Regions from separate parts of the Homo sapiens genome. Here region 2 is linked to region 1. Evidence: fine-mapped QTL for protein levels in blood plasma. Region 1 holds a variant in brackets. A gene starts in the other region. All regions are shown on their reverse strands.

The links. PIP is the chance, under the fine-mapping model, that this variant and not a neighbour inherited with it causes the effect. The UK Biobank Pharma Proteomics Project read protein levels with antibody pairs (Olink). The fine-mapping took linkage between variants from a reference panel, not from the people measured, so its PIPs are less certain.
Region 2: it holds the start of COL28A1, and the variant in region 1 is fine-mapped to the plasma level of the COL28A1 protein (UK Biobank, PIP 0.99).

What each region holds. Positions count from the first base shown.
Region 1 is chr19:2,910,899-2,926,461 of GRCh38, reverse strand. It overlaps ZNF57 (zinc finger protein 57), which reads right to left. Exons shown (of 4, transcript NM_173480.3): 2 at 10,814-10,940; 3 at 10,213-10,384; 4 at 7,989-9,538. The coding sequence ends at 8,173. Among named protein-coding and RNA genes, the nearest start is that of ZNF57, 18 kb to the right of the region's middle. The variant G/A (reference allele first, on the strand shown) is at 8,771.
Region 2 is chr7:7,528,567-7,544,129 of GRCh38, reverse strand. COL28A1 (collagen type XXVIII alpha 1 chain) reads left to right here and starts at 8,257. Exons shown (of 35, transcript NM_001037763.3): 1 at 8,257-8,380; 2 at 11,218-11,378; 3 at 12,226-12,782. The coding sequence starts at 11,255.

The sequences.
Region 1 (15,563 bases):
GGGCGCCTTTGAGGTTGGTGGTTGCGGTTGTCCTGGGGAGCCGAGGTGGCTACGCGGCTGTGGGGTGGCTGTGGCCGTGGTCGGCGGGTGTCCGTGGAACATGGACCCAACCACTCTTTTTCCAGCTCTTTCTCCCGGCAGCCGCAACTGTGCTCCCGAGAGGGTGCAGGTGCGGGTCTTTAATGAGGCTTGTTGGGAAGAAGTCGTGGAACTGGGTTGTTATGGGAGCTGGAGAGTCGAAACTGGCCTGAAGCCAAGTCCTCGGCTGATGCTTGAGGATTAGGACCCCCCACTAGGAAGGGTCCCCCTTTGGGAGAACTGGAGTGCGCTTTTAGGTTTTCAAAACCACAGCATCTCCAAAGATCTGACCCTGGGGACGTGAATAAACTGAAATCTCACAGAAGCGTTCTTAGCAGGCGCGGCCCGAAAGGGCATTTCCTAACATCAGTACAGGCAAATTTGGGGCATGAGCCCTCCTTCCTCAGACCTTCAGTGCTTCCTGAGTATCCAAAGGTGGTAAAAGAAACGTTGCACGTTTTCTTTTCTTTTCTTTCATTTTAATTATTTATTTATTTATTTATTGAGATGGAGTTTCGCTCTTGTTGCCCAGGCTGGAGTGCAGTGGCGCTATCTCGGGCTCACCGCAACCTCCGCCTCCCAGGTTCAAGCGATTCTCCTGCCTCAGCCTCCCGAGTAGCTGGGATTATAGGCACCTGCCACCACGCCCGGCTAATTTTTTGTATTTTTGTGGAGACGGGGTTTCACCATGTTGGTCAGGCTGGCCTTGAACTCCTGACCTCACGTGATCCGCCCACCTCGGCCTCCCAAAATGCTGGGATTACAGGCGTGATCCACCGCGCCCAGCCACATTGCATGTTTTCAAAGTTCAGGAGAGTTTACATTTTCTCTTAGTAAGCGAAAGCGGTTTGTTGTTGTTGATTATTTTTAATATACATACAGTAAGACTATTTTAAGCGTATTTCTATGAGTTTTCATAAATGCATATTTACACCACCAAAACAGAGAACATTCTATCACTCCCCAAATACTCTTGGATTGCCCAATTGTACTCAACCTTTCACCCCTAACCACTGATCTGCTTTAGCCACCTGTATCTTTGCCTTTTCCAGAATGTCATGTTACGTGAAATATGTAGCCTTTTGAGCCCTGTTTGTAAAATTCGATGCCATATTTGTAAAATTAGCTAATTATACTTGTCATTTATTGATTGATTGAGACAAGGGTCACATCCTGTCACCTAGGCTGGAGTGGGAGGGGCACAGTCATAGCTCACTGCTGCCTCAAACGTCTGGGCTTAAGTGATCCTCCCGCCTCAGCCTCCCCGGTAGCTGGGACTCCAGGCATGCAGCACCATGCCTTGCTAATTAAAAAAAATTTTTTTAGTAGAGACAAGGTCTCCTTATGTTGCCCAGGCTGGCCTCGAACTCCTGAGCTCAAGCAATCCTCCCACTTTGGCCTCCCGAAGTGCTGGGTTTACAGGTGTGAGCCATGGCGCCCAGCCTATTATTGTCTTGTAGAATTTTCAGTTTAAAAACATTTGACAGGCTGGGCACAGTGGCTCACACCTGTAATCCCAGCATTTTTGGGAGGCCGAGGTGGGCGGATCACCTGAGGTCAGGAGTTGGAGACCAGCCTGACCAATACGGAGAAACCCCGTCTCTACTAAAAATACAAAAAGTTGGCCGGGCATGCCTGTAATCCCAGCTACTCAGGAGGCTGAGGCAGGAGAATCGCTTGAACCCAGGAGGCAGACGTTGCGGTGAGCCGAGATCGCGCCATTGCACTCCAGCCTGGGCAACAAGAGCGAAGCTCCGTCTGGAAAAAAAAAAAAAAAAACAATCGACAGAGCTAAGTATAAGAGGTGGCAGATAACAGGCCTTCAAAACTGAGAGGTTAAATTACTATGTTTACATCAAGATATGTGAGTTAAGGTTAAGATTCTGTGTTCCTTGTGCTTAACTTTCTTCATTTGTATGATGGGAGGGAAGCTGGGAACAGGAGGTGCAATGAGATGGTAAGTCATATTAATCTCTGCAGTACTTAACATCGAGAAATTGACAGAATTTCATTTGCTTTCCTCATTAACAAAATGCAAAGCTATTGGCCAGGGGTGGTGGCTCTCAACTTTAATCCCAGAGCTTTGGGAGGCTGAGGCAGGAGGATTACTTGAGTCCAGGAGTTCCAGACCAGCCTGGTCAACATAGTGAGACCTCATCTCTACAAAGAAACAACGCCCCCCACCACACGCACACAGAAAGCTATTACATTTTCTTCTCTTTCCTGTGAGCCCATTTGGTGGAAGTGCAAACTTATGAAAATCATATCTTTGAAAAGCAAAATGGGCTTTTTGAGCTTTGCAGATTATTAAAACACAAAACTTCCATCCACTCTTATGAAAATGCCTTTAAAATTTCCCAGTTTCAGGATGTCAAGTGTACTGGGGGGCCTCAAGGCCACCCCCAGTGGTTCAGTGATTTGTTAGGGGTACTGAAGGGAACTGGCATATAGTCAGCCTTACAGCTAAGACTTATTACAGTGCAAGGAAACAGAGCCAACTATTAGCAAAGGGATGAGGCACATGGGGTGAAGTCGGGGAAACCAGGAATGAGCTTCCAAGGGTCCTCCCTGGTTGGCAGCGTACAAGATGCTTTTACTGCCCGGGAAACTAATTGTAACAGCATGTGTGACTATTTACCAACCTGAGAAGCTCAATAGATACTCTGCCAGGGTTTTTTTTTATTGCCAGCTGGTTATGATGCACTCACTGCTTGGCAAATACCAAGATTCCAGATGCCTGGAATGAATGGTGTTTTGCATAAACCATATTGCTTGTGCAATTTTGACACAGCTGACCTTGTAAACGGGCCTTTCAAGGGATAGCACTCAGGCCTGTTTTGCTAAGTTTTTTGCAGTGCAGCCTATTGGCCCCTGCTTTACAACAAAATAATCATCAGTAAGACCGTCACAGCATGGGGGTAATGAGCTTGCAGGAATGATTCCAGCTATGCCCTTTAGGGGTTTCGGACTTAGTTAAAATAAAGGTCTATTTTAGAAAGCCACCTGGCTTCCTCCTTAAACTTGTGTATGAATCCTTTTTACCTGTCCTAACTTACCAAGTGTGTGGTAGAGCAGAACTCTTGCCAGTAATTTGAAGCTTCCACAGCTCAGACGGTGTTGCAATAGGTTCCACACCTGATTACAGTCCCACAGGACACACAAGGTACTGCCGGAAACTGAGTTTACAATTGTCAGGGCAACCTAAGCAAGACATCCATTAGTCAGCAGTGAAGGTTAACAGACACTCAGCGCGGACTCCCCCTGTAGGGAGAATTCTCAGTCCTGTCCAATGAGGTTAGTTGAGTCCCCGATTTCAGAGGGACTGCCTGAGGCAGTCAGTTCCACATGGTTTGCTTGTCTATGACCACAGATCATCACTTTCACCACTGTGGCCCTAAGGGTGTTCTGCAGGGCAGGAATAGCAGCTGGGTGGCTCCCTCACGGCGTGTCAGGGTGGTCTAGGCTCAGCAGTCAGTTTGCGTTCAAAGAACTTACTGGGCGGGCACATTGGCTCACGCCTGTAATCCCAGCACTTTGGGAAGCTGAGGCAGGTGGATCACCTGAGGTCAGGAGGTTGAGACGAGCCTGACCAACATGGTGAAACTTCATCTCTACTCAAAATACAAAATTAGCCGAGGATGGTGGCGCATGCCTGTAGTCTCAGCTACCTGGAACGCCAAGGCAGGAGAATCGCTTGAACCCAGGAGGTGGAGGTTGCAGTAAGCCAGGATCACGCCATTGCACTCCAGCCTGGGCAACAAGAGTGAAACTCTGTCTCAAAAAAATAAATAAAATAAAATAAAAAGAACTCACGGGACTTTGGAAAGCAGCACAGAGGGTTTTCCTTCAGGAGGAAGGAAAAAGTTGCAGGAAAGATTCTGAAAAATAAGATGAACACTCGCCTCTGCCCTCCTCCAGCCACCTCCTCAGATGCTTTTGGATATTTCCTCCTGTTACAAAGTCACTGTGTCCCATTGGGCAATCATTTTACATTTAAAAAAATCATCCTTTAGTGTTATCCAGACCTTTCTTCTGGAAGGGTTGTATGGAATAGGAACAGTTTTTCCACAGAAAAACCTTTTAATGCTATTTACTCAAAGACACAGGTTTAAAAATTGGTTGTGATAAAATATGAAATTATCAAAAAAATTTCAAGATGGCTTTACGTAACCTCCCATCCCTTTTGTCCTGATCATTTATCCAGTGAGCAGCTCAGAAAAGATGTCTGTTTCCGAGGGATAAGTACCTTACTAAGTTGTGTGTACCAGGAGATGGTGAGGGAAGCAGGGTCAAACTGTCCATCCACTGTTACAAACTGCAGTGAATCCAGAAAGCCAAACACAAGCCATCAGCAGTGAGGCATCCCCCAGGTGGGGGGTCAAGAGCCCAGTGTCAGGAATGGGTGGAGGTCACAGTGCCTGGCTATGCCCTTACCAAACTCCAGCTTTTGGCAGCAATCACGTTTGCCATGCAGTCATTCTCCGTATAAGATGAACCCTCTACTATTTATGAAATTTCAAAAATTTAATGTTTTATGTCAATTTTTAACATTCAGATGCAAGAGCCACATACGACAAAGGCTTTTATTTTTATTTATTTTTGAGACAGAGTCTTGTTCTGTCGCCCAGGCTGGAGTGCAGTGGTGTGATCTCAGCTCACTGCAACCTCCGCCTCCCGGGTTCAAGCAATTCTCCTAGCCTCAGCCTCCTGAGAAACTGGGATTACAGGCATCAGTCACTGCGCCCAGCCAATTTTTGTATTTTTTAAGTAAAGACGGGGTTTCACCACGTTGGCCAGGCTGATCTCAAACTCCTTACCTCAAGTGATCTGCCTGCCTTGGCGTCCCAAAGTGTTGGGATTTACGGGCGTCAGCCACCTGGCCTGGCGAGCCTTGCCATACAAAGGCTTTTTTATTTTTTAAAGACAGAGTCTCGCTCTGTCGCCCGGGCTGGAGTGCAGTGGTGCGATCTCGGCTCACTGCAAGCTCCATCTCCCGGGTTCACGCCATTCTCCTGCCTCAGCCTCCCGAGTAGCTGGGACTACAGGCGCCCGCCACCACGCCCGGCTAATTTTTTGTATTTTTACTAGAGACAGGGTTTCACTGGGGTCTCAATCTCCTGACCTCGTGATCTGCCCGCCTCGGCTTCCCAAAGCGCTGGGATTCCAGGCGTGAGCCACCGCGCCCGGGCTTTTATGAAGGCCCCCCCTTTATAAAATAATGGCAATTGTGCCCCCAGTATCAAATGCAGCATTTGTAGCCTTAACATCATAGCCGTCAGATGTTGGATGTCACCCGGCACCCAGGTTGGAATGCAGGAGGCTGGGGGAGGGACCTGCTGCAGCAGGAGCTAGGCTAACACTCAACTTACAACTTGTGTAGGTAAGATGCTCTGTGGTCCACATCAAATGGGAACCCTCTGATCAGTGACAATCATGTTCAAATTCATGGCCGCATATCACATGGCCTAAAAGTTTAAACCATTGCAAAAATGAAGCTGAAGCATACCCGTGTTTATTGTTACGGGGAGTCATTACTGTTAACTCCAACAATGCACACCTGTGTATCTATTGCTCCCCACCATTTAAACAGCCCTGAGTAGTTCTTTGGTTAAGATTGTCAGGGTAGAAGTGCCGGGTGTGGTGGCTCACGCCTGTAATCCCAGCACTTTGGGAGGCTGAGGCGGGTGGATCACGAGGTCAGGAGATCGAGACCATCCTGGCTAACACGGTGAAACCCCATCTCTACTAAAAATACAAAAAAATTAGCTGGGCGTGGTGGCGGGCACCTGTAGTCCCAGCTACTCGGGAGGCTGAGACAGGAGAATGGCGTGAACCCAAAGGCGGAGCTTGCAGTGAGCCGAGATCACCCTACTGCACTCCAGCCTGGGCGACAGAGTGAGACTCCATCTCAAAAAAAAAAAAAAGAATTTATGTTAATGTCAAAAGTTTTAAGTATATGAAAAATTGACCTTTAAGAAGAGTGCATGAGCTGGTACACATCTGGGAATGCTAATAGATAGTGCCTAAACTGACAGAATTACAAAGTTGATTTCATATTCCATAATTGCAATGGAATATTTATATCTTCAGAGTAAAAATATTTGTTATTATATAATTTATCTGAACATGGTTGATAAAATCTAAGAAACCACTACAGAGGAATTTGACAAAAAGTGTCTTGTTCTTAATAGCATATAATTAAACATAGTATTGAACATATACTGAAGGGTTGCACTCGGCTCTGAGTAATAGGAAACTCCACCAGTCTGCCTGATATGAGAGGTGATTATTCTTACATGGACTAAGTAGTCATTCAGCGATGCTGTACACGATCAAACGTGTGTGTGCGCGCTTTTTGGCTGGTGCATAGGCTGTCATGGTTGTGTCTGCACACAGAACCATAAGCAGTACTAAGAGAACAAAAGAAAATGTTTAGTATAAAAATAAGGTAAGACCTGGGCTGGGCACGGTGGCTCACACCTGTAATCCCAGCACTTTGGGAGGCCAAGGCAGGTGGATCACGAGGTCCGGAGTTCAAGACCAGCCCGGCCAACATAGTGAAACCCTGTCTCTACTGAAAATACAAAAGTTAGCGGGGCATGGTGGTGCATACCTGTAGTCTCAGCTACTTGGGAGGCTGAGGCAGGAGAATCGCTTGAACCCGGGAGGCGCAGAGGTTGTGAGCCGAGATCACACCACTGCACTTCAGCTTGGGCAACACAGCAAGACTATGTCTCAAAAATAAATAAATAAAATAAAAATAAGGTAAGACCTAAAGGAGGGAGTTAGCTTCAGAGATGATCACCACGACAGTCAGAATCAGTGGCCTGGTGGACGTGGCAGGTGTTGTAGCAATCCACACTAAATGTCTTCATGTTGGGAGAGCTCATGGAGATGTCTGGCTGAAAGTTAGGCAGCTGGTGTCTGTTGTAGAGACACTCTTCATTAACAGTGGCAGGAATGAGTACAATGATCCAGAAGGCTGTGTGCATGGTGCGCCTGTGTGCCACCTTTATGTCTCTGAGTATGCTGGCTCTACAAAGCGGGTAATGACTTCTCTAGTCCTGACTGCCAAACCTCATGCACAGTAGAAAATCAGCAGATTTTAACTTGGTGCCATAAAGGAAAGACATTCAGGGAAATGTCGTTCCCAGCCTTACACATATATCCGTAACAAAACCATCTACAGATTTCATTCTTGTTTTGTAGGTCCCCATTCCTAATTCAAAGGCTGCTGTCTAACTCCCAGTGAGAAATGAGGAAAAACAAATTGCAAAAGATGATTAGAGACTATACTTTATAGAGAACTCTGCATATTTACCAGGTTTTGCAAAAAAAAATTTGGTAAGGTACAATATATAAAATAGGTAAGTGATATCCACTATCTGTAGCAGTAGGCCAGTAAGAAATACCAAAGTTTTATTGTTGTAATGATCCCATACAGAAAAATATAGAAACTATAAAAATTATGTCATGTTTGGCCGGGCATGGTGGCTCACGCCTGTAATCCCAGCACTTTGGGAGGCCAAGGTGGGCAGACCATGAGGTCAGGAGATCGAGACCATCCTGGCTAACACGGTGAAACCCCATCTCTACTAAAAATACAAAAAATTAGCCAGGCGTGGTGGCAGGTGGCTGTAGTCCCAGCTACTTGGGAGGCTGAGGCAGGAGAATGGCGTGAACTTGGGAGGCGGAGCTTGCAGTGAGTGGAGATCGCACCACTGCACCCCAGCCTGGGTGACAGAGCAAGACTGTCTCAAAAAAAAAATAAAAAAAAAAATTGTGTCATGTTCAAAGTATGCTTCAAATCACCATGGGTCTAATACAGTTCGAAATGAAAATATTTAAGAGACAAAACACTTAACTATTAAAACTTAGGTACTATAGCTGAAAGAGGACTTAGAGAATTATTTTCTCACATAAACATTTATTTTTGAAAGAGCTGGAAATTCACGACTAATGGGTCTGTTTTACAAATGAGGTATTGACAAAGACAATATCATACTTGTAAGATTTCTCTCCTGGTGTGAATTTTCTGGAGCATTATACATGAATTAATGTGAGGTTACCCCATTAAAGTTATAGAATTTCTCTTTAGTGTGTGCTCTCACTGGTTTTAGAAAGAATGACTTGGCAACTGAAGGCTTTTGAGTATGACTGACATTCGTGGGATTTCTGTCCTGTGTGCATCCTCAGATGGTTCCGGAAGGAGGAGTGCCACTTGAAGGACATCCCACATTGTTTACATTTGTGAGGTTTCTCTCCAGTGTGCATCCTCACATGATTATGTAAGGTTGAGGACCAAGTGAAGGTTTTTCCACATTGTTTACACTCATAAGGCTTCTCTCCAGTGTGCATCCTCAAATGACCTTGGAATGCTCTGGAAGAGGTAAAGGCCTTCCCACAGTGTTCACATTTATGGAGCTGCTCTTGCGTGTGAATTCTCACATGTTCTCTAAACGTTGAGGACCAAGTGAAGGTTTTTCCACATTGTTTACACTCATAAGGCTTCTCTCCAGTGTGCGTCCTCAAATGACCTCGGAATGATCTGGAAGAGGTAAAAGCCTTCCCACATTGTTCACATTTATAGAGCTGCTCTTGCGTGTGAATTCTCACATGTTCTCTAAACGTTGAGGACCAAGTGAAGGCTTTCCCACATTGTTTACACTCATAAGGTTTCTCTCCAGTGTGC[G/A]TCCTCAAATGACCTTGGAATGATCTGGAAGAGGTAAAAGCCTTCCCACAGTGTTCACATTTATAGAGTTTGTCCCCAGTGTGGATCCTCATGTGGACTCGCAAGGTTTCAGACCAACTGAATGTTTTCCCACACTGCTTGCATTCATAGGGCTTCTCTCCCGTGTGCGTCTTCTCATGTCTTTGAAAAGCCTGGGGGTAAGTGAAGGCTTTCCCACAGTGCTGACATTTATAGGGCTTCTCTCCAGTGTGTGTTGTCATGTGTCTTTGAAATGTCGAGGGATAAATGAAGGCTCTCCCACATTCCTGACATTTATATGGCCTGTCTTTTGTGTGAGTTCTCACATGTCTAGTGAAGCTTGCGAACCCATTAAACGCCATCCGACACTGCTCGCATTTGTAGGTTTTCTCTGCTGTGTGAGTCTTTACGTGGTGGGAGAGGTAACGAGGATGTTGGAAAGTTTGCCCACATGCTTGACACTTATACGGCTTCTCCTCAGTGTCAGTTCTTCCGTGACTGTGTAGGTGTGAGGGACAAATGCAGGCCTGCTTACATTCCTCACCTGGAGGTGCTTTTCGTCCACAGTGAGACTTGACGTGCCTTTTAAGAGAAGAAAGATGCGTGAAGACTGTCCTGCACTTGGTGCATTCATATGGTTTTTCTCCAGCAGAAACTTTCTTGTGCAGGGTAAGATCTGGCATTTGATGGATGGCTTCTCCATATTGATTACCTTCATTATGTGTACAGAATCTGTCCACCATATGATTTCTGTTAAAAATGAGAGACATTTTTATGTATGGTATGTTTAGTAATGATGTGTTGAGATGTATTAACAAGTATTAGAAATAATGTCTAACTACATTTCAGTATACGTGAAGTTTTTCTATTCTGAATTGTTTGAAGAGACATATTTTTTAATGCAGTATTTATTATATATGGGGTTTTCCTGTAATTTCTTTTTATTTATTTATTTTTTGAGATGGAGTCTCACTCTGTCACCCAGGCTGGAGTGCAGTGGCGCAATCTCAGCTCACTGCAAGCTCTGCCTCCCAGGTTCACAGCATTCTCCTGCCTCCGCCTCACAGGTAGCTGGGACTACAGGTGCCTGCCACCACGCTCGGCTATTTTTTTTTTGGTATTTTTAGTAGAGGCGGGTTTTCACCATGTTAGCCAGAATGGTCTTGATCTCCTGACCTCGTGATCCGCCTGCCTCAGCCTCCCAAAGTGCTGGGATTACAGGCGTGAGCCATCGCGCCCGGCCCCCTGTAATTACTTCTAACAATTATGTTTCAAATTCTCAATGTCTTAGTCAAATACAAATTTTTTTTTTTGGTTAAAATTCTGAGGAATAAACAAATTTGGAGCAATGCTTATATTTGGAGCAATACTTAGATATATATTTAATTGCATACAAGGATTTTTCTCTTGTGAGTGCAACTCACCTCAGATTTTTGTGGTGGTCTTCAGTGCCATAGCCTTCACAATTTTTTTCTAAAGTGTAGGCACAGGAATTATTTCCTGTGAAGTTTGGTATTGTCTGTTCCTTAGATTTTTCTTGCCCGTACATATCCTGCAGAGAAACTGACCCATTGGCTTTAAATTGAGTCCCATCATCTGCAACAAAAAAGTAAACAAATCTCAAAAGGAATAAGACACGTATTAAGCAAAGGAAGACACTGAGGAGTTTAGCATTTTGAGGACCTCATCAATAACAGACATAAGGGGTCAAAATGTTAGGTATTTCACAAACACAGTAAGTCACAGGTATCAAACAAGGAACCACTCTGTGATCCTAAATGACCAGTGAAATCTATACCCCTACTAATGACACTAAAGGAACTTCAAGTCCTTTAAACCAAGACAGAAATAACATCTGTTTCACACATGTTTTCACTGTTAGGGAATAATGACTAGATTCTAGGTCCATGGTGGCTGTGAACATGTCTGTCTTAGTCCTTTCCCACATTTCACATCTTGCAACAGAACTGATGAGAAAGAAATGAGTTCATTAAAAACCAAGGGAAGGAATGATGCCATCCTCACCTACTGAGGCCAGGTTCCGGAAGGTCTCCAGCATCACATCTCTGTAGAGGTCCCTCTGAGCAGAATCCAGCAAAGCCCACTCCTCCAGGGTGAAGTCCACAGCCACATCCTCAAAGACCACTGAGTCCTAAGACAAACCACACAGGTGTGCAGGAGGATTGGAGACACTGAAAGTACTGGGGAACTGGACTCAATTCATAAATTCAAACAAGATTCTGTGGTGTCCCAACACCTCCTCTATGACGCGAATGTTAGATCTTTTACTTATTCACAATCACTTCCTAGTAAACTTCATGGCACCACTATCAGTCTGAACTTATCTCTGCCTTTTTACTGCGACTGCTCTTATTTTCCTCTACCAGGAGGGTCTAGAGAAATGCTATGCAAATGAAGTAACTTTTCCATTTGAAACGTTGCATAACGCAGCAGGCCTCGGTTGTCCAAACGATGCACATTTCATAGGACTTTCGGAAAAGCCTTCCACCAGCTACTGCAGAAAATGGTAAGTCCTTGGAATCCCCTGCCTGGTGAGGGGATCTTTGTATGGACGGGCCTGAGGCTGGCCAGGGAGTTTCTAACAATGTGACTTAAGAATTCCTGTCTTTGTCTGCCTGGAGCCCTAGGCAACATTGTATCCGTTTTCCCCCTTTATTCCCCTTTATTTTCTTAAATTATTTTAAAGGCAACTGTATGAATATGTTTGGAAAGCACTGTTGGATGTATAACACATAAGAATACCTATTTGCCAATAACAGCACAGAGGAGGAGGGTGGGAGGGAGCAAAGGCATATTTAAGCAAAGGGACATGACTACAGATGGTAAAGTACTAATTAAAACGCACTGTTTTGGCATATAATATTCATGGATGTAGCATGTATTCATATTGCCATAGAAGTTGGAGGGGCAGGAAGGAATAGAGCTACACACGCAGCATTTCTGTATCTCACTGGAATCGAGCGATGAATATAAACCCGAAGCTCATCTGATAAGCCTCGCATTGACAATACAGTAACCCCTAAAGAGACCAACAAACAGTAAAAAGTTAAACAACTGAAAGGTTTCATTAGAAAATACTTAATGAAAATGAAAGTAGTGGCCGGGTGCAGTGGCTCACGCCTGTAATCCCAGCACTTTGGGAGGCCGAGGCAGGCAGATCACCTGAGGTCGGGAGTTTGAGACCAGCCTGACCAACATGGAGAAACCCCCGTCTCTGCTAAAAATACAAATTTTGCTGGGCATGGTGGTGCGTGCCTGTAATCCTAGCTACTCAGGAGGCTGAGGCAGGAGAATCACTTGAACCCAGGAGGTGGAGGTTGCGGTGAGCCAAGATTGTGCTCTCCAGCCAAGAATGTCACTCTAGCCTAGGTGACAGAGCAAGACTCAAAAAAATAAATAAAAATAAAAGAAATGGATAATTAAAAATACAAGTTGAAACATAAACACCCATTCTTTTTTCTTTTTTAGTTGAGCACAGCATCATCAATTACCCCACTTTTTAATGAGAGAACATCTAGGTGAAATACGAGGAAATAAAATAATTGAACACTATAAGTCATTTAGACATAGCAGACATCTGCAGAACACTGAACCCAACAACAGCAAAACACACATTCTTCTCAAGTGCAGAAGAACGTTCTGTAAAAGAGACCCTTTGCTAGGCCATAGAAGAAACCTCAACACATTTTAAACAATAGAAATACAAAATATTGGCCGGGCGCGGTGGCTCACGCCTGTAATCCCAGGATTTTGGGAGATCAAGGCAGATGGATCGCTGGAGCTCAGGTGTTCGAGACCAGCCTGGGCAACATAGTGAGACCCTGTCTCTACTAAAAATGCAAAAATTTGCTGGGTATGGTGGCACACACGTGGATTCCCAGCTACTTGGGAGGGTGAGGCACGAGAACTGCTTGAAGACAGAAGTTGCAGTGAGCTCTGATCACATCACTGACAGAGTGAGAGTTAGTCTCCCCCCACCAAAAAAAAAACCAGAAATAAGTATGTTCTCTGACCACAATGGAATGAGAAATGAAATCTGAAACTAATACAGAAAATTTGGCAAATTCACTAATATGTGGATATTAACACACTCCTCCATAACTAATGGATCAAAGAGAAATCAAAAGGGAAATACTTCGAGATGGATGTAAAATAAAGACATAATATACCAAAACTTATATAAAGGAAGTTAATAGCTATAAATACCTATCCTAAAGATTGCAAATCAACAACCTAACGTGGTCCACCTCGACACAATAGGAAAATAAAACTAAACCTAAGCAATTAGGAGTAAGGAAATAATAAATATTACAGGCAAATTAATGAAATAGAGAACAGTAAAACAATAGAGAAAAATCAATGAAACCAAAGCTAGTTGTTTGAAAAGATCAAACAAAACTGATTTAGCAGCCAGGCACAGTGGCTCACACCTGTCATCTCAGCACTTTAGAGGTGGGTGGATCACAAGGTCAGCAGTTTGAGACCAGCTGAGCCAATATGGTGAAACCCCGTCTCTACTAAAAACACAAAAATTAGCTGGGCGTGGTGGCGGATGCCTGTAATCCCAGCTACTCAGGAGGCTGAGGAGGGAGAATCGCTTGAACCCAGGAGGCAGAGGTTGCAGTGAGCCGAGATCGCACCATTGCACTCCAGCCTGGGTGACAGGGCAAGACTCAGTCTCAACAACAAAAAAGTGGGGAAAGGATGTAAATAGACATTTCTCCAAGAAAAATAAACATTGTCAGTAATTAGTCATCAAAGAAATGCAAATCAAAACAAAAAGGAGATACCACTTCTCACCCACTAGGATGGGTAAAATAAAAAACTAAAAAAGAAAATAAGTTTTGGCAAGGATATGGAGAAACAGGAATCTTCACACATTGCTGGTGGGAATGTAAAATGGTACAACCAATTAAGAAAACAGTGTGGCAGTTCTTTTTAAAAGTTAAATGACTTCTAGTTTTTGGTCCAGCATGTAAGGAGCTTGGAAGTTATTATTCCCTTGTAACAAAAAGCTGAACAAACTGAAACCTCAACAAGCTCTTCTTCCATCCTTCAGAGAACTGATGTCACAAGGCAAGCTCTGCCCCCTCAAACTGAAGAGAGAGGCGGATACAGAGAGTCATAACTTACCAGAACACGCAACCATGAACAGAAGCCTCTGTGGGAACCGTTACTTAGATGGGAAACCCTGAGCTGTAACTGATGAATTGCTGGGGGCACAGCGGGCCCAAGTCTGAGTTAGCAATCTCAGGGGGCCCAGTCTTGTAGAGGAGAAGAATAATGATTTTGAAATAGGCTAGATATTTCTGCTCTTTCTCACCGGGCCTTTCCCTTAAAACTATTTGATCAGAGCCTCACCTGTTGGGGTTTCATCAGTGTCTAAATTACCTGTGGAAAGAGATGTATCCCCCATCATCTTCCTCTATTCATCTTGTCCCGCCAAGTGAGAGGAGAAGGAAGAACTGAGAAGCACTTGTGAAGTTCAGTGTCGCGGGGCACAGGCTCAAGAATAGACTGAGACGTCATCAAAGGATCAGGGAATCCTTGCCCTCTGCCCACATCTCACCACTGGGTTACTAAAGGTCTATTTACTTCAGTGCCTTTCACCCAGTACATTGCGTCTGGCTTTCCAGAAAGAAATGACAAGGCATACTAAAAGGCAAAAGACAGAGCTTGAAGAGATAAAGCAGAACCCCTCATATATGGCAGGGACATTGGAATTATCAGACTGGGAATTTAAAACAAGTATGATTAACAGGTGAAGTGCTCTAATGGAAAAAGTAGACAACATGCAAAAACAGGCAATACAGGCTGAGAAGTGGAAATCCTAAGAATGAAAAAGCCATGGGAGAGATTTGAAAAGCACTGTAACAGAAATGGAGAATGACTTTAATGGACACATGAGTAGACTGGGTGTGGCTGAGGAAAGACTCTGAGCCTGAAGACATGTAATGAAAACTTCTAGGTTGGGTGCGGTGGCTCATGCCTGAAATGCCAGCATTTTGGGAGGCTGGGGCGGGAGGATTGCTTGAGGCCAGGAGTTCAAGACCAGTCTGGGCAACATAGTGACACCCTGTCTTTACAAAGTTTTTTTTGTTGTCGTTTTTTTTTGTTTTTGAGACAGACTCTCCCTCTGTCGCCCAGGCTGGAGTGCGATGACACAATCTCAGTTCACTGCAACCTCTGCCTCTCGGGTTCAGGAGATTCTCCCGCATCAGCCTCCCGAGCAGCTGGGATTACAGGCACCCGCCATCATGCCCAGCTAATTTTTTTGGTATTTTTGTAGAGACAGGGTTTCACCATGTTGGCCAGGCTGGTCTCAAACTCCTGACCTCAGGTGATCCACCCACCTCGGCCTCCCAGAGTGCTGGGATTACAGGCATGAGCCACCGTGCCCGGCCACAAAAAGTTTTTAAAAATAAGCTGGGCTTGGAGGCATATACCCTGTGGTCCTAGCTACTTGGGAAGCTGAGGTAACAGGATGGCTTGAGCCCAGGAGATTAAGGCTGCAGTGAGCCATGATTGTACCACTGCACTCCAACCTGGCTGATAGAGCAAGACCCTGCCAAATAAATAAATAAATATCTCTAGGGCTATCACTAAAAAAAGGAAAGAGAAGCATACCTGACTTGCTAAGAAAGGAGAAAAAATGGAATCACACAAAACATGCAATCAAAACCAAAAAAGGCAGAAAAAGAGTGGAAGACAAAATAAGGAACAACGAACCAGGGCAACAAAAACAGAAAACAGT
Region 2 (15,563 bases), not on the chromosome of region 1:
ATACTCACCACAACACTGTGAGAGAGGTGTTATTTTTGTTGTTGATTCGGATGCTGCTGTTGCTATCCTTATTTTTATTGGGCTCCTCCTCATAGTCTTCACTTGCGGATGTGGAAACTGTGTAAGGCTTTCAGAACTTACAGGTCCAGCGTCAAAAAGTGGCAGAACCAATTCTCAGACCTGTGTGCTGTACTCTTTTAAGAGGCAAGAGCGCACCGCACAGCCTGGAAGTTAGGTATAGTCTCTGGTGTGCTGAAGATGGCTCATGTCACCTTGTGAGGGTCAACTGCTAAATTTCCAGAAATTTTTTGAGCCAGTTGTTAACCGCAGATATTATTAAATGTTGTATTATATATTTAACTTACAAGTAAATAAATTACATTAAAAACAATAGTAATAAATACTCAAAACTCATTACTTCCTAATTATTTACTAAATCTTACTATTGTGTGTGTACTTGAAGTTGTTTGCATCCATGGCAACTATATGATGGAAATCCTGCATAGTGGTATGCTGCTATATATTTGTGTTTCTCTTTGCAACCCTGTGTTCAGTGATGTCACATTAGTAATTTGAAATCTGACATAGTAGGACTTTTTACACAATAGAAATCTGCTACAAATTAGGGCTTGAATTACTGTCTTATTTATTGTCTAGGCCAAAGAAAGTGATGGAGAAAACAATAATGCAGATTAAACTCAAAAGTGTATTTTATCTGTAACAGTTGAATAAGAAAAAAACTAAGAAAATGTTTCAGTATTTGAAAAGTATTATATTATTCAGCTACAAAGTTGCTTATATCATTGACAAACAAATGAAGTTTCAATGCACATGCACCTTTTTCTTTGTTTCATTTTTGTCTTACTTGTTCAAGAAGAGGAAAATGCCAACCAACATTCTTGTTGGAACTATACTCATTCATCAATTACAACCATAGATTGGCTAAAGATATAAGAATTTGGCCAAAAATCAATGAAAGCAATCTGTATGAATCAGTTTGCTATATAGAATTTATAATAGAGAATATTGTGTATTTTATTATTATTTGAAAATTTTATACCATACGTTCTTTATCAATAACATTTCTGATAAACTTACGTATGTATATGTGTACAATACACTTTTTTCCCCAGAGAGACAGTTATTAAATACTTTTTGGCAGACTGCTGGGTACCATCTTTCTCCTTCATTTCTTCCACTTTCCTAGGCCAATTAGGTACTAAGCTCTTTGATTCTGCTTCTTAATATTTCTTAGACTTCTTCACTTTGCATTCTCATTGCTGGTACTTGAGAGCCTTATCTCTCATTGGTGTCATAGTAAGTTTCCTAGTAGATCTCAGCCTCCAAGCTTGTTTTCCTGCCATTATTCACACAGCAATCAGAGTGATTTTCCTAGCATGAAAGTGTGATCATGTCACAACCCTGCTTAAAATTGTTCAGTGGCTCCCGTTGCTTTCAAGATAAAGTTTAAACCCTTTAACATGGCATAAAAGAAACCACTGTTTATCCTCTGCTCCTGCACTTCCAACTTCCATATCACAGTCTGACCTGGGTGCCCTCTGTGTAAGTCTCTTTTATAGATGTTATCACACTATATTGCTCTTGCTCTTTTTGGCCTAATATTTTGTTATGAAAATTGTCAAACATACAGAAAAGTTAACAGAATTATACAGCAAACCCATTACCTGCCACCCAGATTTCACAATTGTATTTACAATGAACATATTTGCTCTATTGCATAATCTACCCATCTACCCATTCTTCTACCCGTCTCTTTTCTTCTCTTTTTCTTTCTTTTTTTAGATGGGATCTCACTCTGTGGCCAGGCCGGAGTGCAGTGGTGCCATCTCAGCGCACTGGTTCAAGCAATTCTCCTGCCTCAGCCTCCTGAGTGGCTGGGATTACAGGCATGCACCACCACGCCCAGCTAATTTTTGTATTTTTAGTAGAGACGGGGTTTCACTATGTTGGCCAGGATGGCCTTGATCTCCTGACCTTGTGATCTGCCCGCCTCGGCCTCCCAAAGTGCTGGGATTACAGGCGTGAGCCACCGCACCCAGCCCCATCTTCTTTCTTTATGATGCATTTCAAAGTAAGTTGCAGACACTGGTAAATTTTGTTCCCAAACCCTGCAGCATGGTATTGTCAACTAGAGTTAGATATGTGATTACTTAATTTTTTTTTTTTTTGGGTAAAACTTGCCATTGCTCTTTACTTGCTTATTTTCTTCACTGGGTTGAAGTGACTGCATCTATCTGTTTTCTATCCAGTGCCTCACATATAGTAGAAACTAAGTTGATGTTAGTTAAGTGAATGAGTTATGGATTTCATCAGATGTTACTTAGAGAGCTTCTTGATCCTATATAAGAGTAGTTTTATCACTCTTTCGTTCGTCTCCTCATTCTTCTGCCCAAAAAAGCTGTAGAAAGCAACTTTTATTCCACCCGTTCAGCATCACAGACGATTAAAATTTTTCATCTGTTAACAATAGTTGACAAACTCTCACACTATGTCTTTCTACAAAGTCCCACAAGGTGGTGCCCAAATATCTTTTTTCAAACAACACTTCCTGAAGACCCATGCAGAGTCCTGACTAAATTGTGTTAGTATTTGGCATTTCTGAATTTGGTCAATTAGAATAACAGAAAATATATAATTAAGTAAAAGTTACTCAACATTAAATAACATTATATATGTGATTTCAAAATCTATAGTTCTGGATATAAACAATGAATAATGATAATAGGTACTTTATTTCTGTGTAGAATTTAGTATTATTAAAAGGTTGTTCATATCCCCAAATAGGAAAAAAAAAATTCACCTCAAGTCCCCTTTTCTATAAATTTTGTCCATGAATAATTTACCCTTAGTATAGAATTTCTAAGGGCAGAAGGAGAAACAAACTGTTGTGCAGGAGGAACTATATAATTTAGATGCAATGAAAAAAACAGATGACCCTATTACCTTAACTGGGAACAATGTTGTGTAAACCAGCATTGTAACGGCTTAATATAACATGGGATAATAAGTTACTTAATGCTCTTAAAACACTTTTATTCCAGAAATTTAGAAGAGTTATTTTAAAACTTTTTTTGGATATTCTTATTAAATCTCAATACACTGACCAGAAAACCCAAGTAGGTATTGTGTTTCTACAACTTAATATTCATGCAAATGATGATATCTACCTATATTACTGGCTATGTTTTGATTAGGGATCAGTTATTGAAGTAGCTGTAACAATCCCCAGCTACTCAGATAAACCTGTCCAAACCTGGAGGAGAAAGTTTTTCAACCCAGGGTTCGAAGAGGTGGTGTTCATTGCCTTTAATGGCCCAGGCACTAAGATTTACACAGTGAGAGGTGAGACTCTTTAATGTGCTGGGACTTAGCCCATGATGATTTGTTCTGAGCCATTTGCCACTAAAGTTAAATCCTTATAAATATAAATTATTAGCCATACAGCTTCCTTTTTCTCCTGCTCAAGCACAAGCCTGGATAGCGCAAAGGCCTAAAAATTTTCTAGGGCATTTAGAGATAATGAAAGATGGCCACTTTGATGCACAAAGACCTAAATTTTAGTCCCTCACTGATTAATGATTTGACCTTTGGGTGGGTCTTAATATCTGTCCTCTATTTTATCAACTGTGAAATGGCAGAATTAAATAAAAGTGGTTTCTAAGTTTCCTTCCAGTTCAGAGATTTAACACTATTGTTTGTCCCCAATACAAGAAAAGTTTAAATACCAATCAGTGGTTATCAAATAATTCACCAAGATCTAGAATAACACTGTCTAATATCTGAAAGTAAAATGAACTAAGTGAAAAATAGAAATATTTTGCCATTTAAAGCAGAGTTTAGTCAAGGTATAAATAGATCTGATCTTTCTCTATTTGTAGGCTCTGCATGAAAAAGTTAAAACTGCTCTATCCATTGACCAAAGAAAATAATTAAAGAAAAATATTGAACATTCAAACCTATGATAGGACTAGATCAATCTACTTTCAGATATTTCTTAGAAAAAAAATTGTAAAACTTTCCAGATGGCACCTTGATTTATTTTTGGTCTAAAATAATTGCATTTAGTCAGGAATAAACAACATGGAAAGAAGAAATATTAATATTGAAAAAATATTTTAGAGAAAGAGATTAATAGTCATAAGATTGGTATAACGGGAATTTAGCCTGTCACTGTAGCCTATGAGGCACTGTGTGTTGCAAATGTGACACAATTATTCAAGCTGGGGATTGAATGACAAATAATGAAGCAAGAGATCTTAGGGAGTAAACGATATAAAAGATAATTGAGTCCGTGTTGCTGTACCCCGAAACTGCTCTAAACCATAAAGTTTATTAAATAATAGTAACAATTGAAAAATAGTAGAGGGAATGTGGAAGGATCAACTCAATCAGAATTTGGTGAGGGCATAGGAACTGAAGTCACGCTGTTCCACATTTAAGCAATGCCACATCCTGTATTTTATTACCAATGATAATTTTTATTTTCTTATTGTCTTTGAATGCTTTTAATCTTTCCCTTTGTTGACAAATAAGACCAATACAGTTTTGGTGTTTGCCATGGTTTGCATATTTGCCCCCTCCAAACCTCGTGTTGAAATTTCATCCCCACTGTTGGAAGTGGGGCCTGATGGGAAACGTTTGGGTCATGTGGGTGGATCCCTTATGAATGACTTAATGCCATCCTTGCGGTAATGAGTGTGTTCTCTCTGTATTAGTTCCTGGGGGAGCTGATTCTTTAAAAGAGTCTGACACCTCTCTCCCTGCTCTCTTGCTCCCTCTTACCATATGATCTGCACACGCTGGTCCCCTTTCACCTTCTGCCATGAGTAGAAGCAGTCAATGGCCCTCACCAGAAGCAGATGCTGGTGTCATGCTTCTTGCATAGACTGCAGAATTGTAAGCCAAATAAACCTCTTTTCTTTATAGATTACTCAGCCTTAGGTATTCCTTTATAGCAACACAAAATGGACTAAGACAGTGTTCCTCTAATTACTGATGAAGGAGTTGAGAGAATGCCTAGGTCATATTCTGGGTCCAAGGATAATGAATCCCAGAAATTTCAGAGCTTTGGGGCAGGTGTTAGAAATTCTACTATATCAAGCTTTTCTACTGACAAAAAGAAGAAAGAGAAAGAAAGAAAGAAAAAGAAAAAAAGAAAGAAAGAAAGGAAAGGATCTTCAAGAACAAATTTCTTCAAATCAGGTACGAAGGTCATTAATTTCTTCCTTGTTAGTTGGTAATGTTTTTTTTTTTCTACTCTAGATCAGCAGTGTGGGAGGTGGCTAAAATAGGGAGAAGCTTGTGAAACTATACTATGCCTTAATCTTGGTCAAAATATATAACTTTGATTTGTTACCAGCCTTTTTTTGTGTGTATTTCTATGACTTCATGCAGATACAATTCTCTGAAATATGTAAGTCCTAGCAGACTTGTCTCTTTTTAAATGATTCTAGGACCCCAAAATATCATCACCACTGAAATTAAGATGTTGGCACTGGTACTAGAATCAATAAACACAATGCAGATGCTACTATGGTAGCATATTAAAAGAATTTGAAAAAGTTGAAAAAAGATTTTCATCTAGCAGAGCTTTGGAGAAGAGCAATTTATTGTATCACAGACCTCAAGTGACTGATAAACACTAAAAATTACTTCTAATAATCATTTATTTCACAAATATGACTGCTTACTCTGGGCTATTTATAGTAGTAACAATGAAAATAGTGTGCTATATTTCTTCCATAAAGACTTTTACTACAAAATAACTGTCAGAAGGGCATGGGCTCCACGTTGCCTTTTTCTAGTCATTATGGTTATCCATGCTCTCTTATTTGTTCTGGTGTAAGTCCAATAGCATACTAATTCAAGACCATCTGTTGGGATTAAGATTGTGGTGCATTGTTTCTCTGGGTGCAAAACTAATTGTCTTTTATAGATTGATGAAACTGAAGATTTTATTTTGCATAATCTTCCCAATTAATTTAGTGCTGATTTTCACGCTTGAGAATGAGAGGTGGCAAATCTTTGGTTTGAGTTACCCTATTTAATGTTGGAGAATGAAAGGGAATGGATGACTAAGTTGGACTCCAACCTCCCACCAACTTTAATCAAAACAGCTCCAAGGCAGGAGGGCTTTAGTCCATTTCCCCCATCTAGGAATCACCTGTTTGCTTCTTAGTGGCATTATTATTCTGCATGTTTTTAACCTGCCTCAGCAAAAAGAGAGTTGACCTGAAAAGATGCTACTTCCTTGTCTCTTGATTCTCATCTTACAAAAGTAAAAAGTGTGACTAACACCCATAGGCTATCAGGTAAATACATGGTTGTTCCCTAGGAAATTCCGTTGTTATTTCTGCATTATACCCACCGTTTCTTCTTTCTGTTACCAAAGCCTCACAAAACTTCCTCAGTTCCTCGAAACCTGTTTTGTGAGGAGGAGACAGTGAAAACACAGACGTTCGCATAGATACTTAATGATGCAGTAGTTGTTATAAGTGAGGCTCACAGGTCTTACCAGCCTGAGTTAAAAGTTCATTTTGCCATTCTCTGGTTTTAGTATGACAGCGGACAAGTTACTGAACCTCTCTCTGCCTCCATCTTGGAAAAATTCGAATTCTTACAACATCTACTAAGTACAAGGGGTCCTGGAATAATATTTTGTTCAATGTCATTTTGTTATAACATTGATGAGAAAAAAAATTCAATTCCTGGGCCAGGCTCACTGTGTGGAGTTGACATGTTTTCCCCATGTCTGTGTGGGTTTTCTCCAGGTCCTGGAGTTTCCTCCCACATCCCAAAGCTTTGCCCATTAGATGCATTGGTGTGTCTACATGGTGCCTGTCTGAGAGAGTGGGTGGGTGTATGAGTGCCCTTTGACAGTACTGCATCCTGTCCAGGGCTGGTTCCTGCCTTGTATCCTCAGCTGCTGGGACAGGATCTGGTCAACCGTGACCCTGAACTGGAATATGCAGGTAAGCAGTTATCTTGTTTTTATCAATCTTTCATAAATGTATATATAGCTTAGATTTATTTCAATGTTTATTATTAGAGGTGTTTTGAGTATTTAGAGGTTTAGTGATGTTTTTGTGACTAGGAATATGCCATAAGAGCTTAACTCTTATTTATATCAATTAGCTCTTGGGAAAATTGTCTTCATTATCAATTGTTTCACTTTATGTCACAGTTTCCAGAACCTACAGAGGACATTAAGTGAGGACTTACTGTATATAGGTGGTTGTGCTTGTGAAGGATTAAATGAGGTAATGTGTGTGAAGCACTCAGGACAGTGCCTAGCACCTGGTAAGTGTCCATGAATTGGAGGCTATTATTGCTGTAATAAGGAAATTCATACACATTAAAATGGCTAAGAAAGTTCATTTTAAATAACCGTAACATGCACATTTGTATTGCTTTCTCGGATGATCTTGCTATTCTCTATTTCAGAGGAAGTCCGTGGAGAAGCCTGCCTGTTAGCTGTCTAGGGGTCAGGTGGCTTCTTGGCAGTATATATTACATGATAAACATTGACTTAATATGGACCATAACCACAAGGTAGAAAATAGGGAAACAGGGAGTGGAAAAACCACAGTGATCCTTTCCTAGAGAGAGACCAAAATATTAACCGCTGTAAACCTCTCATGTTACAGTTCGAACACATCTTAATAAATGATTAAATCTACTCTCTCATTTCATAAGTGGGGAACTGAAGCCCCCATAAAAGTTAGGGGCAGAACTATGACTATACTCAGACCACTCTTTCCCTGTATATTATATATACCTTTTATTATAAAAAATTTCAAAAATCACAGAAATACAAAGACTAGAACAATGCACACCTATGTACTCATCATCCAGCTTTAATAACAATCAAACTGTTACCTCTCTTAAAAAAACAGCTTTGATTCTGAGTCTGGTGTCATTTATACTCCTTCACAGAGATGTTCAGAACCAGTATCTTAGAGCACATCCCCCAGGCAAAGAAATGTAGCAATAAAAAGAGAAGGACATAGCATGAGAAAAAAAGGCAGGCTGTCAACCAATGCCTAAAATGTAGAAAGTTCTCTCAAGTTGTTTTTACAATAGTCTGGAAAACACAGTCTCATTCTGAAAGGACACTGTTCCTTTAAATTGCTTACTGATCCCACCCAGATCTTGCACCCTGGCCAAATGCCTGACCACTCTTGCTTTGACTTAGTCGAATAAACATGAACAAAAGACTGCAAAAGATCCTAAAGCAAAGACACTTTTATTTCCCACAGAACAGAACAATATCAAATAGCTAACTTCACCCCCAACCACAGTCCTTGCTGTTGGCATTTACTCAACTAGTCTTTAATTCCTGTTTGACAAACTTTATAAGGTAAGACATAACAGATTTATTTTAGTCACTTGAAATCAGATAGGACCATCAAGGAACTGTGGAAGACTAAATGACTTACTTACATAATTATTAGGTGAGAAAGCTTGTCAATAGTTTGTATTCTCTGCAATTACTTCAAATCAATTATTAGAAAAATATTAACATTGTTAAAATGTAGAAATTTAAAACTTAAAATTATTTTGAAATGGATTTTTAATTTACAGTCTTCTAAATTGTTTTACAACGATGTTAATATATTTTAGGACATCTTTTTCTTAATTTGGAACAGGGTTTACAATTCAGAATTAGTTATAGAATACTTTACAACTTGGCTAATTTGTCAATTTGAATAAAGTCTTTATTCAATCATTTTCTATTTGTGTAGAAACTGAGATGCAAACATTGTAACTAAAGTTGGTGAACTCTGATATAAGATCATTTTATTTTTGAAAAATTATAAAAAATAAAGTATCTTGGATTTATTTACTGATCCTGATATTTACCCCAAATAAATTTTAGGCCAAAAGTAAAACTACGGTATTTGATTAATAATTATGATTGTTTCTGCATTTATAAAATGTAACCTATAGTAAACACAGAGGTTCACATTTCTTTCACTTAACTAATGGCACTGTTTCCTCTGAAACCTATTTTGCTTGTACGTGACATCAGAAAGAGAGAAAGGTGAGAATTATTAAAAACAGAGGCAAAATAAAACATGGTAAAAAGTGATTAGAAATGAGTGGGCTCTCAAGATGCCAAATTAATAAACGAGAAAGATATTTCAGGGAAGCAGTAGAACTAACAAGCTAGAGAAACAAATCTAGAGAGGTATGAAAATGTCCTCTGGCTACAATAGGGAAACAGAAAGAAATAACAAGACTTTGGTTTGGGAGAGCTAGATTAACAATGTCAGAGCAAATAAGAACAAAATATGAGATACTGGGATTATTGTCAATGGAAAAGTTATGTTTGTGAATATCATATATACAGGGATCAGGTACAAATTCATGATTATATGCCAAGAAAACAGTAAGAGCAGGTGCTTAGTTTTGGGAAAAGATAAATCTTTATTTAAAGCCAGTATTTCTAAAACCTTACATGAAGGGTTTTGAAGAGTTGCTTGATTATGTTGCTTATAAAATCTTGCTCAGTTCTCAATGGAATTCAGTTCTCAGCCTCTTATTTCCAGAACTTCTGAGATGTTCCTTATGGTATGAACTCAACCAAAGAGAAAAGTCATATGTAATACCATGGCCATGGTGTTATTCCCTTTCCCCTTTGAAAATGCAATAACAACTGTGTTTTTCACATAGCCTTATCTTTACACTAACCTTCAGACTTAAAGTTGTACATCATTTATTTTTTTCCTTGGTTAGCAAAGGGACAACTTGAGGAGAGATGGCCTTTGTGTGTTCTGTTTCCTTAGCACATTTCTTGGTTTTGTTTTGTTTTTAATACCCAGCTGTCTTTACATTTTAGTATACCTTGTCTGAGGATCAGTTGGCATTTGGCCAATTGCTACACAAGATGTTTGGTCATACCTATCCAAAGTTCTTTTAATACACTTCCAGCTGGATGATGCTATGTGAGGAGCAGACTGTGGCATGAAGCCATCCATTGGTCCTCTCCTAACCCAACAGTTTTGTTTCCCTTTGGGGTTTATCCATCTGGCATGTATGAAAAAAGTCAGTCTCCATCTCACTCCTCACTGCCTTTGCATATATTTCCACTCTCTACTCAGAGTCTGGAAAAATCGTGCTCATGATTTCCCAGATTCTTATCCCCTAAAGGCAAGGTGCCAAAGAAGGAAAATGTGATTCCTTTTCCAGAACTCCTGAAGTCAATAAAGTTTCAGCAGGCAAGCATTTTTAAGCCATACTAAGTATTGATTCGAAATAAGCTTTCTCGTTCCCATTCTCTTGGGTATACTGAGGCAGCAACACATGAGTCTTCTCCTCCCAGGGAAATCTGTCAGTTTAAGAGTCAGTTGGTGTGTAGCTAGGCATATTGACTGATGAAGATTGAGGATTTTAATACAGAATTAGATTTTTCGTTGTTAATCCACCCAGAAAAATAGTTTCACGGGGCTATTCAGAGGGGGTGCTTCTTGGCTTTAAGTCCCGTTTCTGTCCATTAGTTCTTTTAGCCATCACTGGAAGAAGAGTGTTGCTTTTAAGCAAATCTATTATTTTTGCTCTCATACTCTTTTGATTCATTGCATATGCAGCTTTGAACCCCTGGTGGAGACAAAGTTTCCAAAGCTAGGGTAGAAAAGAGAGATGGGGTTCTATGGAAACAGAAGGGTCGTTTAATTTTTACCTTGACCTCTGAACTCACTGAAGTTATGTGTGTAGTATTAAGCCTGAAAGGGTGGTGGTTGTCTACAGTTCTACAAAATACTAGATTTGTCAGGAATCAGTTATAATGAAAGTGAATGAAATGACCATATAGCAATCTGAATTCCCCCTGAAGAATTTGGAAATGTCAAAGCAGACCCTGTGATTGAACCACAGTAATCATATAGAGCGGGATTGAAATGTTTTTAAATGGCTCTCCCAACTCTATGCTCCTCAAAATACAATGCGGAATTAAGAATACTTAAATATAGTTCTTTGAATATATAGAAATATTCACTAATAAATGTTTGGTCATGGTGCCATGATTTATTTGGATTGAAATCTTTCAAAATCTCAATGTGAATATTTTTCTAGAAATATGAATGAAAACCTCTTTTTTCCAGTCACATGCCAGTTTTCAACCCTGCTGGCTTGAAATTTAAAAATAACAAACACCATATTTTATTAAAGTATTTGTAACTGACTTTTCTATTAAAGGTGCTACAAGACAGATGATTTTTCACCATCTACCATAATGTGGAACAGATATTTTGTCTTCTATCTCCTGCTTTTGTCAGCGTTTACGAGTCAAACAGTATCCGGACAAAGAAAGAAAGGACCAAAATCAAATTTGCTTGCAAGGAAAAGTGATGTCCAGGGTAAAAAAAAAAAAATTGTTTGTTTTTAAGTTTAGCCTGTTAAAAATACTTATGTGAATTTTTCTAAATAGCATTTGATATAAATAGCAAGCCATATACATGTATACATGTGATAGTCTACTTTGATAAAATTATATGATGATAATATACCTTACATACTTATAGCACATCAGAGTCTTTAATAAGAGCACTTGTGCACTTATTATCTCATTTGAGCCTCACAGTAACCTTGTAAAATAGGCAGGACGGAGATTGCCACTCATAGTGTAGATTAAAAAAATTGAGGTCTTAACAGGTCGAGTGGCATACTCAAGGCCATAGGCAAATTAACCACTGAGACACAGAGCTGGGATTTAAACTTAAGTTGTGTTTAAGTTAGGTTTCTTCTCCACTTACTCTTGGTATAGGGGGTATAGTCATTTTCTCCCTTGATTTCAAGAAAGTTTAAAAAAAAATAGGGACTCACCAATATGACACAACCTGAGAATTAGAGTATCATTTACTTCTAGACAACTATGCTCAGTGTTAGTTGGATTTTTAAAATGTGATGCATCTTGACTTCCCATTTCCTCCCACTTTCAGCAGGTTTAACATTGAAAAGATGCTCAGAATAAAAGATATCTTATTTATTTTTAATTTGCATGATTTTACAAGGAGAAAATAATTCATAAACTTAGACATTTAGTTTTTTACAATTGAAGCCTTCTGTCCAACGTGTCTCTCTTTCTCTCCTCACGCTGCTCTCAACACCAAACAATATACAACACACCACTTCAGGGCTTTCCGTATGCAAATTTGTTTCATGATAGGAATAATTATTTTGCCTAACCTGTTTATTCTGTTTCAGGCTCCATTTGTTTCATAGATATTGTCTTCATCGTGGACAGCTCTGAAAGTTCTAAAATTGCCCTCTTTGATAAACAGAAAGATTTTGTGGATAGCTTGAGTGACAAGATTTTCCAATTGACTCCTGGTCGCTCCTTGGAATATGACATCAAACTGGCAGCCCTTCAGTTTAGCAGCTCTGTCCAAATTGATCCACCTTTTTCTTCCTGGAAGGACCTGCAGACATTTAAGCAGAAGGTCAAGTCTATGAATTTAATAGGGCAAGGTACCTTCTCTTATTATGCCATTTCCAATGCCACTAGGCTACTTAAGAGAGAAGGGCGTAAGGATGGTGTGAAAGTGGTTTTGCTGATGACTGATGGCATCGACCATCCAAAGAATCCAGATGTTCAAAGTATTTCTGAAGATGCCAGAATTTCAGGAATATCATTTATCACCATTGCACTTTCTACGGTAGTCAATGAAGCCAAACTTCGTTTGATTTCTGGGGATTCATCCAGTGAACCCACTTTACTGTTGAGTGATCCAACCCTTGTAGATAAAATTCAAGATCGTCTGGTAGGTACCTAATGGGTTGATTATACAGTTATCATCATAATATTGACATATTTGTTGTAAATCCCATAAGAAGAGATACTGGGTCAAAAAGATGGAGAAAATGAGAGTTAACACTGAAAACAGAAAGAAGAATCTTTCTGAAGTGTCACTCCACTTTCTTGGCAGTTTACTCCAGACAATCTGGAAAAGTTCCAGGCTAATTCCCTGGAATTGCATTTTTAACTTTATTGCTAGCTGATGCTGAGGATTTTGGAAGGGGTTATTTTCCAATCATATACCTTAAGCTCCTGTTTATACAGCCTACAATCATGAACATTGCTGACTTATATTCAGGTTGTGCTCAACTTGAGGTGTTAGGCTATATTTGTACCAAGTTGGTCTTTTCCCATTCCACATCTGTACAGGTATTTTTGACATAATCTTGACATATTCTCTCTTACTCTTCTAAAGGACTGAGTATTTTTGACTCTGTCTCACCTATTGTTACATTATGCTACTCAAAGTTCATAGACTTCCAATTTTTAAAATTACCTCCTTCTTTCTTAGATGTTCTCAAGCCCATCCAATTTAAAATCATCTGCAACCTGCAGTCAAGCAACAGTTTCTCCCATCAAATCAATGAGTCCCACTTGATAGGTCTGGTCAGCTTTTCTTTGTTTGTTGCTCAGCTGTGTATAAAAGCCTTTCCTTGCTGCTTTGTAAAACACACGGCACCACAATCAAAAGGAAATCCCTCTTCACAATATTTCTCAAGGAGAAAACGCCTAGAGATAAATTGGTTGATTGGCTGAGTGTTAAAAACTGATTTTCTTAAAAACTTGGATTTCTTTGATTTCCTGAGAAAGGAAGGCAAAGGTGTCCTTTATGTACTGAGCGTTTCATATGGCTGTTTTCTACAGCTTGCACAGAAAACTCAGGCTCTATTTCAGAGATTGTTTTGCTCCTTTTGTCTTATCCCTCGATCTTTTTCTCAACATTACTCTTATCTTTTTACTCTCTGTTGCTTTCAGCATAAGATCTGAGGTTTTCTTACCTAAATAATAGCTCTTAGGTATTGAGTACTCTCTCTGTATTAGGCATTTTCCTGAACACTTTATATATTTTATTTTATTCAATGTTTGCCACAATCTTATGATGTAGGTAATGTTATTATACCCATTTTGTAGTTGAAAATTTAAGGCCGGTGAAGACCTCACAGTTTGCATGCTTAACCCTATAAAGGCATATTGAGAGAGGAAATAGTAACTGCTTTTTAAAAAAATATTTTCTCAATCAGAACTGCTCTGAAACAGTTTGGTAGCAGCCCTCCTCCAAAGTTACTATTGTTTCTAGCCTTTTTTTCCTTGGGGATTCGGGGTAAATGGGAGAGTTATGCCTAGATCAGAGATAGAGCTGATGGGCCCAGTCCTGTGGTGCTCAAGGTAAGTACTCATTCTGAGCAGCTCTTTTGCATGAAAGGGAAATTTGTAGTGGTTCCTGGCTAACACTTAGCCCTGCCTGTGCCATGACTTAAGGGGTCCTCACCACTGAACATAAAACAGAGGGCTCCAGCCCGTGTGGGAGAGAATCCTGGTGATGTGGTCATGAGTGGGCTGTTGTTACTTATTCATCTTCACCTTAAGATGGATAAGAGCTGACCATAGAAGATGCGGGACAGGCAGCTCCTTGTTTGGCCACAGGTGTAGGCTCAGGTTGTTCATATTCCCACCAGATACACCCTCGCTGAGAGCACCTGCTTCACTGAGAACACAGGCTCTTGGCAGTAGACTGGAAGCAAAATTGTTTGTCTGTTCCTGGGCAAACAGAAAATGACTGAATACTGCTCTTCCTTAGCATCCGGCGACTTCAGCTTGTTTGTTTAGCATCTGTGATTTCAGCTTGTTTGTTCAGATGGAAGCTCCATGAATAAACCACTTTTTAGAAGGAGGTGCTGCTTTCCAAACACTTACAGGATCCAAAGTGCTTATTAGGCTCTTCAAAGAATGGTATACCAACTTTCAATGTTACAAATTGCCACCATCTAGAAGGCAGAACTTGACTCTTTTTTTTTTTTTTTTTGAGACAGAGTTTTGCTCCTGTCACCCAGGCTGGAGTGCAGTGGCACGATCTTGGTTCACTGCAAACTCTGCCTCCCGGGTTCAAGCGATTCTCCTGCCTTAGTTTCTCAAGTAGCTGGCATTACAGGCGCCTGCCACCATGCCCGGCTCATTTTTTTGTATTTTTGAGTAGAGATGGCCAGGCTGTTCTCAAACTCCTGACCTCAGGTGATCTGCCCGCCTCGGCCTCCCAAAGTGTTGGGATTACAGGTGTGAGCCATCGCGCCGGGCCCAGAACTTGACTCTTGATGAGACCATTGGAAAAATTCTTTATCTAATCCCTTTCTATTACATCTTTAGTTGAATTTTTAAACTTTTTATTTTAAAATAATTATGTAGTTGACTTTTTAAATAAGTTAATTAGGTATGATTTAAGTACACAACTGCATTAACTTAAAGGGCACAATTCCATGAGCTTTTGACATAGGTACACACCTATGAAACTACCAACACAATTAGGATAGAGAACATTTCCATCACCTCCCCAAATTGCCTCATATCTCTTTGTAAGACCCCATTTGCTCCTGAGCTACTGATCTTACTTTTGTGACTCTAGATTAGTGTATACTTTCTAGAATTTTATACAAACTCAAATAGTATGTATTATTTTTGTGTCAGGCTTCTTGTACCCAGTATAATGATTTTCAAACTCATCAGGGTTTTTTTCTGTATCAGAAGTTTACTC